Regions from separate parts of the Homo sapiens genome. Here region 1 is linked to region 2. Evidence: fine-mapped expression QTL. A gene starts in region 2. The other region holds a variant in brackets. All regions are shown on one strand. Distances are from middle to middle. Region 1 overlaps SNX15 (sorting nexin 15). Region 2 holds the start of NAALADL1 (N-acetylated alpha-linked acidic dipeptidase like 1).

Region 1 (2,899 bases), 23 kb before region 2:
CAGTGCTTTGGGAAGCCAAGGCAAGGTAATCACTTGAGCTCAGGAGTTCAAGACCAGCCTGGGCAACATGGTAAAACCCCATCTCTACAAAAAATACAAAAATTAGCCAGGCATGATTGTGTGCACCTATAGTCCCAGCTACTTGGGAGGCTGAGGCGGGAGGGCGGCTTGATCCCAGGAGGCAGAGGTTGCAGTGAGCTGAGATCGTGCCACTGCACACCAGCCTGGGTAACACAGCCAGTCCTTTTCTCAAAAAATAAACGGGGGCTCCTTGCTTTGTGACCTTGGGCAAGTCACTTTCCCTCTCTGAGCCTTACTTTTCTCATTAGATCAAAGCCATCAGAAATGCTTTTGTTTCTTGTTAACTGCCTAGCTCCCCCTGGGTAGGATATGATATTCACAAGGGCAGAGACTGGTTCCTCCCCTGTTCACCTTCTGAGTCTAGCATATAGTAGGTGCTCAGTAAACATCTGGCAAATGAATGAATAGGGAAATTGATCCCTCCTGGAAGCCCCTACCTCACCCCAGGAGGAACCAGGGCAGATTGCTGGGAGAATGGGTAGGAGGGCAGTGAGTTGCTCAGAGCATCTCAGGCAGGACCAGGAAAAGTGGCCTTGGGGCAGAAGCCCCTGTGGGTCACCGCCACTCTCCCCTGTTCCTTGTCCTGGGGGCCGTAGGCCGGTTTGAAGCCTCAGTGATCGAGGAGCGGCGAAAGGGGGCAGAGGACCTGCTTCGCTTCACTGTGCACATACCTGCGCTCAACAACAGCCCCCAGCTCAAGGAGTTCTTCCGGGTATGTGCACCTTCCACCTTCCCAGAACTTGGGCCACTTACCCACCCACCAGATTGCACCCCATGACTCCCCATGTCTGATCTTTCTGTCCTGCAGGGTGGGGAGGTGACCCGACCCTTGGAGGTGTCCAGGGACCTACACATCCTGCCACCCCCTCTGATCCCCACCCCGCCCCCTGATGACCCCCGGCTATCCCAACTGCTCCCTGCAGAAAGGAGGGGCCTCGAGGAATTGGAGGTGCCAGGTACATCGGGGTGGGAGGAGGGAACCAGGGCTGGAGGGTGCAGAGTGGGGAGGGCGGCCACACTCCCTCCTCAGTGATCTTACTGAGAAATGTGTGTGTGTCCCAGGTCTATCACTTAACTGGCTGAGGAACTTTGGGCAGGTCCTTTTCCTTCTCTGTGCTACAGTTTCTTGATCTGTAAAATGAGCACAAACCCTAATAACAGGCTTGTCTATGCCCATGGTTGCTGCAAGGGTTTAAGGAGAGAGTAATTCTATTTTGAAAGCTGAGAAATAAACGCAGGTATTCATGACCCCACTTATCTCTTCCTCAGTGGACCCCCCACCATCCAGCCCTGCCCAGGAGGCCCTGGATCTCCTCTTTAACTGTGAGAGCACCGAGGAGGCATCTGGTTCCCCTGCCCGAGGCCCCCTCACCGAGGCTGAGCTTGCCCTCTTCGACCCCTTCTCCAAGGAAGGTAATGAGCTGGGACAGCCGGGAAGGAGCCAGGGCAGGACGTCCTTGGGACAGGGAGGAGGGCAGAGCCCCACTAGCCTGCTCAGTGCCTGCGCAGATCAGGGAGAGACGTCTCCTCAGCAGTGCTGCCCTGTG[G/A]GCCAATAGCAGCTTCAATGAGAATTAGAAGCCCTGTGCCAGGGCACGTGGTGTGGTGTGCTGGATGCACCTGTGCAACAAATAGCCACGAGGAAGGAAAGGAGGCACTTCCCATGTTGGGGCCATCTCACTGAGAAGGCTTTGGAAAGAGCCGGGTCACACTGCTCTGGGACATTTTAGTTCCTTCCCTGCAAGCTCTTGGTGGGATTTCCTGACTGGCCAGGGTCTGGCTGCAGATCCTGAAGGCAAGAGGCCTGCTGGTCAATGGGAGTGAGTTCTCAGCTCAAAGGGCAGCTGCAAAGGGAAATCCCTCTGGGGGCCTGGAGCCACTGGCATTTGGGGATGCTGGAGGTAGAAGGGCCCCCCCAATGGAGGTCAGGGTCCTGGGCACCTTCTTGCTGTGAGATCCTGGGACTCGACAGTCCCAAGCTCTGAGACACTGGAGTTTTTCATTCTAAAATTTGCCAACGCCTGGCACATTGGCTCACACCTGTAATCTCGACACTTTGGGAGGCTGAGGCAGGAAGATTGCTTGAGCCCAGGAATTCAAGACCAGCCTGGGCAATATAGCAAGAGTCCATGTCTGTTATTCTTTTTCTTTTTTTGAGACAGAGTCTCACTTTGTCGCCCAGTCTGGAGTACAGTGGCGCAATCTCTGCTCACTGCAACCTCCCAGGTCCAAGCGATTCTCCTGCCTCAGCCTCCTGAGTAGCTGCGACTACAGGCGCGCACCACGGTGCCTGCTAATTTTGTATTTTTAGTCGAGATGGGATTTTTCCATGTTGGTCAGGCTGGTCTCAAACTCCCGACCTCAGGTGGTGCGCCCGCCTCAGCCTCTGAAAGTGCTGGGATTACGGATGTGAGCCACCGCGCTTGGCCCGTTTTTTTTTTTGAGATCGAGTCTTGCTCTGGATTGCCGAGGCTGGAGTGCAGTGGCGCGATCTCAGCTCACTCCCACCTCCGCCTCCCGGATTCAAGCGATTCTCCTGCCTCAGCCTCCTGAGTGGCTGGGACTACAGGCGCGCGCCACCACGCCTGGCTAATTTTTGTATTTTGAGTAGAGACAGGGTCGCACCATTTTGGTCAGGCTGGTCTCAAACTCCTGACACTCAAGTGATCCACCTGCCTCCGCCTCCCAGAGTGCTGAGATTACGGGCGTGAGCCAAAATGCCCTGCCTCTTTCACTTTTCTTGTTCTGCCTCCTCCCGTTCCTGCTCCTGCCTCTCCAGGGTTGGGGAGTGGGAAGAAGGAATGGGAGGGAAAGGCAATGT
Region 2 (2,899 bases):
CAAAGTGCTGGGATTATAGGCGTGAGCCACAGCGCCCGGCCCCTAGTCAGAATTTTTGATGGAAAAGAAATGGCAGGGAGAGGGCCAACAGGAGGGACTTAAGTTGAATATTCAAAACTATTTCACAGGAGGACTTAGACTTCTGGAATACCAAACCTGAAAATTGTACTCAACCCCTTTATTTCCTACAGCTCAGAGAGGGTCAGGGAGGCATCCGAGGCCACACAGCCCATTGGTGGGACAACCCGAAAACACCTTGCCTTTCCTGCCCCACCCTGGGGCTTGGTTCCCCACTCAACACTGCCTCTTCTCCTTCCCCTTCCCCTCACTTCCTCCAGTCCACTGCCCAGCCCCTTCCTCACCGAGGCCTCCTGCACTGGGGGACTGCCACTCACCTTGGCCCCACGCCCTACACCCCCATATCGAGTCAGGGCAATGGTGCCTTCAAGTTTGATGCCCTGAGTCTGTAGCTCCTTAAAGTCTTCTTCCGCGCCCCGGTTGGCATAGACGAGGAGGCCCTAGTCCCAAGAGGGGGTGATCCTTAGAGCTGGGCCCAGCGAAGTGTGGGTGGGGAAGGGGGGTGGAAGTTTGCATGGCAGGAGGGAGAATTTAGATTCTGTTCCCCCACCTCACCCAGAGCTTGTAAGCTCCCCAAGAACAGTCACCCCTCATTTCCTCCATGTCTGGGTGCCCTGTAACAGACCTGGCCTTGAGCAGAGCCACTAGTGTTTGTTGAATGACTGATGGAGGAAAGGAGCAGCGATGGAGTGTCCCGGTGAGTAAATTCCGGAGGGCGCGCTGTGCCCCAGTTGAGGCACGTTCCCTGGGTCAGGGTGGGGAGAACCCTGGGTGGAACCAAGGGAGCTGGGCCAGAGCAGTAGGGGGGGTTCTGGGCCCACCTGTGGGGTTCCAGAAGGAGCATAGGCAGCATAGGGTTGTACCACATCTGGCCCCCCTTGCTCCCCGGTCACGTTCTCCTCAGTCCGGTGGCAGGAGTGGATGATGCCCCCAGTGGGGCCCACTGTTGGAGGGGTGGCAGTATCATGGCTGGGCCCAGCAGCTCCCCACCCCCGGGCATTCCCAAGACTGGGCAGGACCTCACCGATGTCCACGACGTTGGGCTGCTCCTGGCTAGGGAAGGACAGCAGCACTTCGTACGTGGAGGCCTCGGCCGAGTCCAGGCCTGACTCTGGGTCCTTCCAGCGCTGCAGCAGCAGCTGCACCAGGTCCTCATCCCGAGGGCTGGAGGCCAGGTGTGGCTCCCTGGAGAGTTCTCTGCAGGGTGGGCAGAGGGAGGGGCAGGGCCAGCATCAGGGAGGGGGCCTCTGGCAAACGGAGGAGCAGATGGCCCCACTTCTCACCTGAGGTTCTCCCGGATCCTGTGGGCATCCAGCTGCCCCATGACGGTCTCCAGGATCTCCAGGTCCAGGTCCTGGGGGGCCAGTGAGTTGGCTTTTTTGGGGATGGCAAAGTGGCCGAGGATGATCCCCAGCCCCAAGAGGGCAGCAGCCCCCAGCCCCAGCCCCAACACCTTCGTCCACTGCATCCTGCGGACTCTTGGCCAGCTGGGGTAGGACTGGTCTATAGGTTATTCCCTATAGAGGGGGTGTTGTGCCTGGTTAAACATTACCCCATGGGTGGCACTGCCCTTTGACCCCCAGCTGGCAGGGAGAGTGAGGGAACATCCCGCAGTGAGAGCCAGGAGCCATCCACATCCACCACATCCTGCACCATTTGCCTGGAATGGCTCTCCAAGGGCAGCAAGGTCACCCAGGGACACTGAAGCCGAGAGGGAAGGGGCTCATCCAGGGTGTCCCAGGAAAACAGAGGCCAAGCCAGGGCTGGAACTCAGAGCTCCTGTGTTCACAGCAGGGCCGTGCCCACTGCCCACCCTCACTGCCTCTGCCTCCCTCCAAGGCAGCCGATCTACAGCATACCCAGCCCTACCTGCCTGAGCAGATTTTGAGTTGAGATCCCCCTTCTTGCTGGACGTAAGCTGTGTGACCTTGGGCAATCCACTCAGCTTCTCTACACCTGTTTTCTTTTTTTTTTTTCTAGACTGTGTCTTCCACTGACACCCAGGCTGGAGTCCAGTGGTGTGATCTCGGCTCACTGCAACCTCCACCTCCCGGGCTCAAGTGATTCTCCTGCATCGGCCTCCCGAGTAGCTGGGATTACGGGTGTGCACCACCATGTCCAGCTAATTTTTGTATTTTTAGTAGAGATGGGGTTTCACCATGTTGGCCAGGCTGGTCTCAAACTCCTGATCTCAGGTGATCACCCGCCTCAGCCTCCCAAAGTGCTGGGATGACAGGAGTGAGCCACCGTGCCGGCTATGGTGTCATTTTCATTAAACAATATGGCATCTGTAGAAATAGCTAGTGCAGTGTCTGACATGTAGTGGGAGCTCATCAATTTTAACTACTCATCCCTCATCTGACTCTGGAAAATGTAAGGCCTAGAGCTAAAGGAAGAAGGAGGACCCAGAAGAACTCTCTGTGTCTATCCTGAAGGGAGCCCAGCGATACGAGGAATGGGAGTCCTGGGAAGGGAGGCTGTCCCAGAGGAGGCAGCAGGGGAAGCCCATGCCTCCCTGGCGAGGTGACTTCCTCTTCTATCCCCTGGCTCTGCCTGGACTCCGTCATCCACCCTCCTATTTATCCATCCACCCATCCCTCCATTCACTTATTCATTCCTTCCTTTATACATGCAAGCACTGTTCATTCTGTGCTATACTAGAGCCATGCAAGGCTGTGGGGAAGCAAAATCCAGCAGGCGAGGCAGACAGGCTTTAGGTTCAGCCATGTGGTAAGTGCCCTGTAGAGGGAGGATCACCATGCTCCCAGTGAAAGAGTGAGGAGTTCTGACTAGGAGGGAACATCTGAGGGGGTCCTCCAAG

The links.
Region 1: its variant is fine-mapped to the expression of NAALADL1 in whole blood (INTERVAL, PIP above 0.99).

What each region holds. Positions count from the first base shown.
Region 1 is chr11:65,034,170-65,037,068 of GRCh38, forward strand. SNX15 (sorting nexin 15) reads left to right here. Exons shown (of 8, transcript NM_013306.5): 4 at 678-793; 5 at 890-1,037; 6 at 1,351-1,494. It overlaps ARL2-SNX15 (ARL2-SNX15 readthrough (NMD candidate)), which reads left to right. Exons shown (of 11, transcript NR_037650.2): 7 at 678-793; 8 at 890-1,037; 9 at 1,351-1,494. Among named protein-coding and RNA genes, the nearest start is that of SAC3D1, 5.6 kb to the right of the region's middle. The variant G/A (reference allele first, on the strand shown) is at 1,629.
Region 2 is chr11:65,056,976-65,059,874 of GRCh38, forward strand. It overlaps NAALADL1 (N-acetylated alpha-linked acidic dipeptidase like 1), which reads right to left and starts at 1,578. Exons shown (of 18, transcript NM_005468.3): 1 at 1,362-1,578; 2 at 1,103-1,275; 3 at 900-1,021; 4 at 396-518. The coding sequence starts at 1,546.